Regions from separate parts of the Homo sapiens genome. Here region 1 is linked to region 2. The links come from fine-mapping of genetic effects on gene expression. A gene starts in region 2. The other region holds a variant in brackets. All regions are shown on one strand. Distances are from middle to middle.

Evidence for each region. PIP is the estimated chance that this variant, and not a neighbour inherited with it, causes the effect.
Region 1: its variant is the best candidate, but not a certain one, in a credible set for the expression of KLF8 in whole blood (TOPMed, PIP 0.53).

Annotation. Positions count from the first base shown.
Region 1 is chrX:56,028,237-56,033,616 of GRCh38, reverse strand. It overlaps LOC124905193 (a long non-coding RNA gene), which reads left to right and starts at 1,991. Exons shown (of 3, transcript XR_007068247.1): 1 at 1,991-2,164; 2 at 4,875-5,156. It also overlaps a transcript of KLF8 not described here. The variant C/T (reference allele first, on the strand shown) is at 2,375.
Region 2 is chrX:56,229,056-56,234,435 of GRCh38, reverse strand. It overlaps KLF8 (KLF transcription factor 8), which reads right to left and starts at 2,080. Exons shown (of 6, transcript NM_007250.5): 1 at 1,095-2,080. The coding sequence starts at 1,101.

The sequences.
Region 1 (5,380 bases), 200 kb after region 2:
ATTACAGCCATTATAAAAAAGTGTGTGGTGGTTCCTCAATAAACTAAAAATAGAACTACCATATGATCCAGAAATCCCACTTCTGTGTATATATCAAAAGGATTTAAAATTAGTATGTAGAAGGGATGTCTGCACTCCTATATTCATTGCATCATTTTTCAAAATAGCCAGCATATAAAATCAATCTAAGTGCCCATCAAAAAAAATTGATAAAGAAAATGCAGTATGTATACACAATGGAGTAACAGCCCTGAAAAGGAAAAAAATCCTGTCATTTGCGACACCGTGGATAAAACTGGAGGACATTATGCTAAGTGAAATATGCCAGCCACATAAAGAAAAATACTGAATAATCTCACTTTTATTTTGAATATAAAATAATCTAAATCAAAGAAATAGAGAGTAGAATGGTGGCTATCAGAGGTTGGGTTGGGGAATGGGGAGATGTTGCTAAGAAGGTACAGGTTTAAGTTAGATAGGAAGAATACATGATAAGTATTTGAGGAGATGGATATGTCACTTTTCTTAGTTCAATCATACTGCATTATATATCTATATCATATGTTCCTCATAAATATATAGAATTATTATTTGTTAATGTATTATAAAATTTAAAAACACAAATGGTGGCAAGGATGTGGAGCAATGAAGTTCTAATACATTGTTGGTAGGACTGAGAAATTTTAAAGCCAGTCTGGAAAACAGTTTGGCAGTTGGTAGTAAAGTTGAACATTTACTTAACATAATCCCTAGTAATTCCACTCTTAGGTATTTACCCATCCCAAAATACAAACACAAATCTGTCCACAGGAAAATCTGTCTGCAAATGTTTAAAACAGCTTTATTCATAGTCACTAAATATTGGAAACTACTGAAGTGTCCATCTATAGATAAATGGATAAACAAATTGCTATATTCATACAATAGAAAACTACTGAACAACAACAATAAAGAATTACTGACATGCACAACAACACAGATGAATCTTGAGAAAAATGTTGAGTAAAAGAAGCAAGAATCAAAAGGCTATAAACTTATAATTTCACTTATATAACAGTTTATAATGAACAAAATTGCAGTGAAAGAGATCTTATCAGTAGTTGATAAAGGCTGGGAATTAGAGGGAGGAGTTGATTACAAAAGAGCACAAGGGAGCCTTTTCAGGTGACAGAAACATTATTTATCTTGATTATAGTGGTGGTTACAGAATGGTATACATTGCCAAATTTCAAAGAACTGTAGATGTAAAAAGAATAAATTTTACTAAATATAAATTATACCTCAATAAAAAAATGAAAGACTTGAGGCATATACAACAAAAACCAAATAAAACAAATATTTAAGGGCCAGGAATGGTGGCTCATGCCTGTAATCACCAGCACTTTGGGAGGCCAAGGTGAGAGAAGAGAAAAAGAGACCCCTCATATTGTTTTATATTGTTTTATACTCGGTACCTGTTTTAAGAAGAAACAAGGAAGTGGAAACCAAAGGCAGGCAGCCCGGCGCCAGGCACCAGACCCAAAACCAGACCCAAAACCAGGTCTGGGCCTTCGTGACCTAACCTGGTAGTTAAAATTCAACCCATGACCTAGCAACCGATGTTATCCATAGATTCCAGACATTGTATGGAAGGACATTGTGAAACTTCTCCTTCTGTTCTGTTTCACTCTGATTACTGGTGCATGAAGCCCCTGTCACATACCCCCTAGATCGCTCGATCGATCACGGCCCTTTCATGTAAAATCTTTAACGTTGTGAGCCCTTAAAAGGGACAGAAATTGTGCACTCGGGGAGCTCGGATTTTGAGACATTAGTCTGCCGATCCTTCCAGCTGATTAAAGCCACTACCTTCACTACCTCGGTGTCTGTGGGGTTTTGTCCGCAGCTCGTCCTGCTACATTTCTTGGTTCGCTGACTGGGAAACGAGGTGACTGATGGACAGCCGAGGCAGCCCCTTAGGCAGCTTAGGCCTGCCCTGTGGAGCATCCCTGCAGAGGACTCCAGCCTACCCGAGCGACATGATCCAAAGAGCGCTCCCGGGTAGGCAATTGGCCCGGTGGAACGCCTCACCAGAGCAGTGTGTGGCAAGCCCCCATGGAGGACCAAAGCAGTGGCTGAACACAGGGAAGGAAATGGCACTTGGAGTCCAGACATCTGAAACTTGGTAAGAATAGTCTTTGAAACTTGCCCACTCCATCTGAGTGGAAGCATGGCCTGACCACCCACAGCATGCCTGTATCGGCACTTTTGTTCTGGTTTTGACTTGACTTGAATTGCTTGATACTTTGGTTTTGGTTTTGACTTGGCTTAAATTTCTTGATACTCTGATTTTGGTTTGGTATAAACGATAAAGGTGTGTGTGTGCCCTCTTTAC[C/T]TGTTCTTTGTTTTGTGGTAAGTGTGTGGTGTGAGCATGATATTTTGTCTTGAGAAAACATGGGTCAGGCACAAAGTAAGCCCACCCCATTGGGAACTATGTTAAAGAATTTCAAGAAAGGATTCAAAGGAGACTATGGAGTTACTATGACTCCAGGAAAACTTAGAACTTTGTGTGAAATAGATTGGCCAGAATTAGAGGTAGGTTGGCCATCAGAAGGAAGCCTGGAGAGGTCTCTTGTTTCAAAGGTATGGCACAAAGTAACTGGCAAGCCAGGACACCCAGATCAGTTCCCATATATAGATTCCTGGTTACAGCTAGTTTTAGATCCCCCACAGTGGTTAACAGGACAGGCAGCAGCAGTACTAGTAGCAAAGGGACAGTTAGTTAAGGAAGGTCCTCACTCCACCCGCTGACAGAAGCCAGCCCCTAAAGTTCTGTCTGACCCAGAGCCCAAAGACTCATGGCAGGAGATGGCACCAACAGTGCCCCTCCCTTACCAAGCAGAGAGGCCCCCTAATCCTGAGCTCACAGCCCCTAGACCACCCAGAGTAGACAAGAAAGGAAGTGAAGCTGCAGGAGAAACTCCTCCCTTGGTGGCTCGCTTACAGCCCAAGACTGGAACACAAATGCCCCTGAGAGAGCAGCAATATACTGGGATAGATGAGGATGGACACATGATGGAAAGGCGTGCCTTTGTGTATCACCCTTTCACTTCTGCTGACTTCCTCAATTGGAAAAATAATACTCCATCTTACACTGAAAAGCCTCAAGCTCTAATTGACTTGCTCCAAACTATTATACAGACTCATAATACTACTTGGGCTGATTCCCACCAGCTACTCATGTACCTCTTTAACACAGATGAAAAGCGAAGGGTGCTCCAGGCAGCAACTAAATGGCTAGAGGAGCATGTCCCAGCCGATTACCAAAATCCCCAGGAATACATAAGAATTCAGCTGCCAGGAATGGACCCTCAATGGGATCTGAATGAAGGACCAGATATGGAGAGGCTAAGACAATACCAGGAGGCATTAATTGAAGGTCTGAAAAAAAGGGGCTCAAAAGGCCACCAACGTAAATAAAGTTTCTGAAGTCATCCAAGGAAAGGAGGAAAGCCCAGCCCAATTCTATGAAAGACTGTGTGAGGCCTATCATATGTACATTCCTTTCAATCCAGATAGTCCTGAAAATCAGCATATGATTAACATGGCCTTAGTTAGTCAAAGTGCAGAAGATATCCAAAGGAAATTACAAAAACAGGCTGGTTTTGCAGGAATGAATATCTCGCAGTTACTGGAGATAGCTAATCAAATATTTGTAAACAGTGATGCAACAAGCCGCAGAGAAAGCCATAAGGAGGGAGAACGCCAGGCCAGGTGGAACGCTGATTTGCTGGCTGTGGCAATTAGGGGAATCCCCACGAAGGGACAGGGAAAGGGGTGTTCTGGGAGGAATGCCCAGTCCAATCGCTCACGTCTGCAGCGTAACCAATGTGCCTACTGTAAAGAAATAGGACATTGGAAAGATAAATGTCCCCAACTAAAAGAGAAGCAAGGTGATGCAGAGCAAAAAGACCATAGAAAAAGACGAAGGGACTTTGTTTAATCTGGCCGAAGGGCTTCTAGACTGAAGGGGATCGAGCTCAAATGCCCCCAAGGAGCCCATGGTCAGGATGACAATAGGGGTCAAGGACATTAAGTTTTTGGTCAATACCGTGCTGAACACTCAGTAGTAACCACCCCAGTGGCCCCCTTATCTAAGAAAACCGCTGATATAATAGGAGCAAGAGTCTCCACCAAGCAGGTTTTCTACCTACCGTGGACCTGCTTGGATAGAAGGACATAAAGTGACTCATCAATTTCTGTATATGCCTGACTGCCCCTTGCCTTTGTTAGGCAGAGACTTGCTTAGCAAGCTGAGAGCCACCATTTCCTTTACAAAACAGGGCTCTTTATAGCTGAAGTTACCGGGAACAGGAGTTATCATGGTCCTTATGGTCCCCTGAGAAGAATGGAGCCTTTTTCTAACCGAGCCAGGTCAGGAGATAAAACCGGCACTAGCTAAGCAATGGCCCCGAGTATTGGTGGAGGACAATCCTCCAGGGCTGGTGATCAATCAAGCCCCTGTACTCATAGAAGTTAAGCCTGGGGCCCAGCCAATCAGACAAAAGCAGTATCCGGTTCCCAGGGAAGCTCTTGAAGGAATACAGGCACATTTTAGACACTTGAAAGCTTTTGGAATTATAGTTCCTTGCCAGTCTCCATGGAACACCCCCCTCCTACCTGTCCCCAAGCCAGGGACCAAGGACTATCGGCCCGTACAGGACTTATGCTTGGTTAACCAAGCTACTGTGACTCTGCACCCAACAGTTCCTAACACTTACACATTGTTAGGATTGCTGCTGGCTGAGGATGGCTGGTTCACTTGCCTGGACTTGAAGGGTGCCTTCTTTAGCATTAGACTAGCTCCTGAGAACCAAAAACTGTTTGCCTTTCAGTAGGAAGACCCGGGGTCAGGTGTCACCACACAGTACACTTGGACTCAGCTTCCCCAAGGGTTCAAAAATTCCCGCATCATCTTCAGGGAGGCGTTGGCTCGAGACATCCAGAAGTTTCCTGCTAAAGACCTAGGCTGCGTCTTGCTCCAGTACGTGGACGACCTTCTGCTAGGACACTCCACAGCAGTCGGGTGTGCAAAAGGGATGGATGCCCTACTTTGGCACCTGGAGGACTGTGGATATAAGGTGTCCAAGAAGAAAGCTCAGATTTGCAGACAGCAGGTATGCTACCTGGGATTCACTATTCAGAAAGGGGAGCACAGCCTGGGGTCAGAAAGAAAGCAGGTCATCTGCAGCCTACCAGAACATAAAACCAGAAGGCAAGTAAGGGAATTTCTAGGAGCTGTGGGTTTTGCAGATTATGGATTCCAAACTTTGCGTGCTAGCCAAACTGTTGTATGGGGTTACAAAGGGGGGCGACTGAGAGCCCTTTGAATGGGGGCCTC
Region 2 (5,380 bases):
AGATACAAGTGGCAGCCTCTGCCACATACACAAGATATTTCATCCACCCGAGTATCTACTGAGATAGAATTATTAATCTGCATTCTATGGAAGAGAAAAGCAAGGCCCAGGGTGATGCAGCTAATAAGTGGTGATACTAGGGTTTCAAAGCAGATTACCCCAAACCATGGCAATCTCCATCAGTTTCAAATCCAAATTTAAAGATTATTCTTTTTGCTCAATTATTACCACACTGGGTGACAGGTGCTTAATAAATGCGTTTCTTCACGATGAATATAATACCAAAAGAAATAAGACATGGTGCCTTTGGCCACCTGTTTGGATGTGATTTATTTTTTCCCAAATTCTTAGGGTTAAAAAAAAAAGCCCACAAAAAGACAGCTCCGCCAAGTGGCTAAACAAATGGATTCACTTCAGCAATCACAGCAACTCGGCCCAGTCAGTCTTCCACCTACACAGACGAACCAACTGCCTTGGCCACGTCTTAAAGGGCCGGAGCAGAGCCTAGGCTCTGGCTTCCTTCTCCAACCAAGCTCAGCCCCTCCTTAAAGAGCTGGCACGCCCAAAGCAGCTCCTCCCCCGCAGCTGCTTCCAGGCCTCACTCTGTGCCTCCAATAGCCTAACTTTGCACCTTAAACCACTGTCCCCTCCTCCTTCTTTTCAGAAGCTTCTCTAGGTACCCGCTATGGCTTCAGGGGGTTACCTGGGAGCTTTGGCCTTGTGAATCCTGTTCTCTCTGGTTGTGACTTTGGCTGTGTGGGGTTAAGTCAAAGACAATCCTTACCGCTTAAGGAGTATTGGGAGTGCCGAGCCAGGGGAGACTAGACTAGACAAATCCATCCATTCTTGCCCCCTTTCACTTCTTCCACCAAGCTCTCTCCTCTCCTTCTTGGCCTTTCTTTGCCCAGCCCTTTAGCAAAGTCATTTTCCCTTGAGTTTCATTTGATTCCACATAGTGTTCTTAACCTTCCGCTCCCGCCCCCACTGCTGAAACCCCAAGTGGGGTGTGTGGGGGGAGCAGGGGGACTGGGAGGGGGATAGAATCTAGACGAAAGAGGTGGGAGTGGGTGGGTATTAGTCCCAGAGTCACTTACCGACCATGTCACTAGCTGAGGACTCCTGAAGTGTCCAGAACTCATGCCGTCCTCCGGGAGGCTCATACTCCTGAGCTGATCGCAAGAGAGCTGTTCCCCTCACACCCGCCCCATTCTGACATAGCGCAGGGCGACGCGTTCTCGTCTTCTCGTTCTTGGGCCCCCACTCCCCTATTTCTCCGGGCTGGAAAATGAGGAGGGGGTCGAAAGGGGAGGGAGTCGATTCAGACCCAGCTGGGCCACTCTCGGAACAAGGGAAACAAAGCTCTCAAGCATCCAACCCAAAAATCAGGGGCCGGCAGAGTAGACTTCCTAAAAAGAATCCTCCCCCCTGCAGCTTTTCCTTGGACAAAAATAAAGTGGGTTCGCTGGGCCGAAGTGGCCAGAGCTTAAGGTCCTCCGTTCCCCTTTTACCTCTACCAATTCAGTTCCGGCCAAGCCCGCTCTCCACCCATCCTCTGAACTCCACACACCCTTTAAAAGGAGAGGGCCGGGGGTGGGGGCTATGAAAACCAACCCAACCCCCAAAGCGCTACTTGAACATAAAGTTGAGGCGGAGAAGAAATCCTTCAAGACAGGAACCCACGAGGAGATACCACAAGAGGATCCCTTCACCGCCGCCGTTGCCGCCGCACACCCCAGCGCCTTCCTAAAAAGAAAGAAGGGAGGAAAAAAATGCCGACGATTGGTAGAATCATAGAGAAGAACACCAGCCCCAGGGCAGGGGCTTCAGCGAAAAATGGCAGCAACTCGTGCGGGTCCTCTGGGGCGGGGTTTCTTGGAGGCACCTAGCTGCCCCACGGGGTACCTCGCGCCCCACGCGAGTCAGAACCTAAAGTGCTCTCTGGGCAACCTGAGTGGGTAGAGTGATTCCGTCTTTCTCTGGCCCTGCTAGGCCCAAAGGAGAGGTGTGACTATCGTGAGGACTCCACCTAGGGTGGAGTTCCTTAAAAAGGACAGGCGGCCGCTAGAGGAGAGTGCAAAGTGGGAGGAGGTGGAGAAGGGTGGGGCTGAGAAGGAGGAGGGAGGAAGGAGGGGGTGGGGCGGGGCCCTGGGCCGACAGAGCTGGCCTCGCCTCCGGCGGCCGCCTCCCTCAGCCTCCAGCAGCGGCAGGTATAATTCCAATCAATTTCACTTCCTTATCTGTCCCAAAATTAAGGCTTGCAAGCACACTGCTTGATTACCTATTTACTCCGGTTATGCTAATTCTCCAGGGGAGGGTGGTGAAACGGGTACTGGGATTGGGGCTGGGGGCTGTCTAAGAGGGAAAGGAGAAAACAAAAAAGCTGACAACTGGAAGCGATATTTATCCTCCTACCTCTCCATGGTAACACGAACAAGGACAGCGAGGTCACAGTGTCTTCTCAGGGAGGAAGCTAAAAGGAACGGAGATTGGAGCTTGGTGCATTTTCTAGCAAGAGATAAGCCAAGGAGGTGAGGGCGAAGGAGTAGGTGGGGAAGAAGAAGGAGTTGAAGATGATCTGTGAATACAGCGTGGCCCAGCAGGGAGACTTAAGAAAGGCTTTCTCAGTCTCCCAGATACCAGACCTCTAAGAATAGAGTTCTCAACCCCCTGAGACCGCCTCTCAGCCAGGCATTGGCGAAGATCCCCGTAAAGCTGAATCCACAGGATAGGAGCCATGTTTCCAGGATTTCTTTACGCTTGCCTGAAAGTCTCTCTCTAGCTCATTTTAATGGGAGGCCAGGAAGTCACAAGCAACCACAGCCCATTTTCAGTGCCTCTTCCCTACCACAATTCTTTTAAAGAGGAGGAAAAAGAAGAGAGACAAGAAACAAAGCAGAGGGAGGAAGAGCAAAGAGACAGGAGAAATAATAATATCTGCCATGTATTCAGCACCTAATATGGGCAAGTCCCTGAGCCAGGTGCTTTTACATTCAACATTTCCCCATTTAGTCCCAATAACAACCCTGGGAACTAGGTACTGTTATATTCTCTGTGCCCTTTATTTAAAAAAATAAGGAAACGGAAGGCCTCAGCCCAGTACTTTCGAACACATAGGTCTACTTACTTAGTTGATATTTCTGCCTGAATGTCTTCTGTGCATCTCATCTACCTTCCTTTCCCCAAAACACTCTGTTCTTCCTCCTGTAGTTCACCAACTACCTGAATGGCACCACCATACATCCAAGGCAGCACCCTGGAACTCATCCTTTAACCTGCTGTGATCTGGCCTTTGTCTGCCTCTCAAGCAGCAGAGATTTTGCTGTTCTCCTGGGCTTTACCTGGATTACAAATCCCTGGGAATTCCAAGCTGTTTCCAATCTCTATGCCTTGGGTTGCTTTACTTTCTCTGACTGAAATAGACTAAGCTCTCTGTCCACCTTTTTTTTTCTTGCATGTCCTTCCAATGAATCTGTCCACTTTCTTGAAAGGACTAACTCAAGGTCATCTCCCCTCCTTACTTAATTTCTTCAGGCAAAACTGACCATTGCTTCCTCTGTGCCCTTCTCTACCTCGGGGCACATATTTGTTGGTATAATTGCCTCCCCCTACTAAACTATAAAGTCCTTGAGCTGAAGCACCAGGCGATCTCATTTCTGTAACTTGGATGCCAAGTTATATTATTATTAACAATAATAATAGTTATTGAGCATTAACTATGTACTAAACTCTGTTGTAAGCCTCTTATGTATATTAACTCATTGAATCCTTCTGACAATCCTATGGGTAGACATTGCTATCCCCATTTTACAGATGTGGAAACTTAGTGACAGGTTAAATAAATACACATGCATATGTATTTGTTTCATAAAAGAATGTCCCTGTAGTAGGGGTTTCATAAATAACTCTCTATCTCACTATATCTCTTCACCACGACCTGCACCCCTGCCAAGCTTACAAGGTAAGATATATTGAGATGGAATCATACAGAGAAGTGTACAACTCTCTATGCCTTCATTTAAAAAATTTACTTTATTCCTTGGAGGCTTTGTTTCTCAATGTATAAAATTTGGGGAGTATTATCCAATATAGGATTCTTACCACTACAGCACTGTTTTGAGCAATGCTGAAAAGTTTTCTCTTAGATTCAAGTGTGTGAAAGACATTAAGCAGTTTATATCAATAATAAATGCATTTTTGTGATGTGCAGATGAAAATGAGTAGATTGCTGAAGTAACATTTTGAAAAGAGTAGCCACTACTAGCCCTGAATACAGTGGGTGTGCCTTAAGGTCATCGAGTTACTTTTTCAGTCTGAAATAGCTTTTCAAGAAGGTCGATCCATACACAGATAGCTTAACAGTTTATATTTTATTAAAAGTCTTTATTGTTGACAAATTTATTTTAAGCTCTAGCTTTTTGTTTGTTTTAGAAATACTGCCTCAACTTTATTTGTGGGGAAAACTTAGACCTTAGATGGCAAATTCAGTTTTTGGAAAACTTGAAGTTATTGAAACTTGGAAAAACAAACCCAAGATCCTTTCCCATCTGTTCTTTCATCTATTCAGTCAATAAAATGTATTGAGCACCTGTGCTTTATCAAGAACAATGCTAGGTGTTGGGGGGCGGTGGAATGAGAACATCCATTCTAAGAGGCTCCAGTGGATGAACCCTCAATTTCACTGTACGCACACAGCCTATTAGTCCACATTTCCCCTTCAAGTCCTTTAGAGATGGCCTCTGTCTCACTCAAATTAGGACCCAAAGATGGTTCACAGGGAACTATGAAACCCATGACCACAGTTAATGTCAAAGGCAGGAGTTTGCCTTTATATTCTTTTACTCTTGACACATAGAAATAATCAGCATGTGGTTGGTGTTGTCTATGTCACACGAAAGGGTGTGAGGGAGCAGGTATGGGGAACTAGAAGTTTTGATAAATTTCCCTGTCCGTCTAGGAAACACCTCAGGCTCTCCTTTCTTTAGCTGGCTAGAATAAACATGAACCAAATAGCAACCTGCGATATTTTCAACTCCTTCCATCCCACCTTATGCGTGAGGGAGACTGCTTGAAGAAGCAGCCTGTGCTTTCCTCTATATATCCAAGTAATCAGATGAGGAGTGTTAAATTAAGTGTGGAACCTAATGAAAAGCAGCTGAGAAATATGCAGACACGATTCTGGGCCCACATATGCTGTTCTTCCCTTCTTCTCTTTCTCCTCTTCATCATCCCGCTTCTCCTCCTCCTGAAAGCCAGCTGACAAACTACCAGGGTGGAGCCCAGTCTGAGGGCTGGAGGGAAGGGAGGAGGAAAAGCCTCAGTAAGAGGACTCCACCCTCTCTGCTCCCAGTAGAACAACAACAATAAAAAAAAGAAGGCTTGA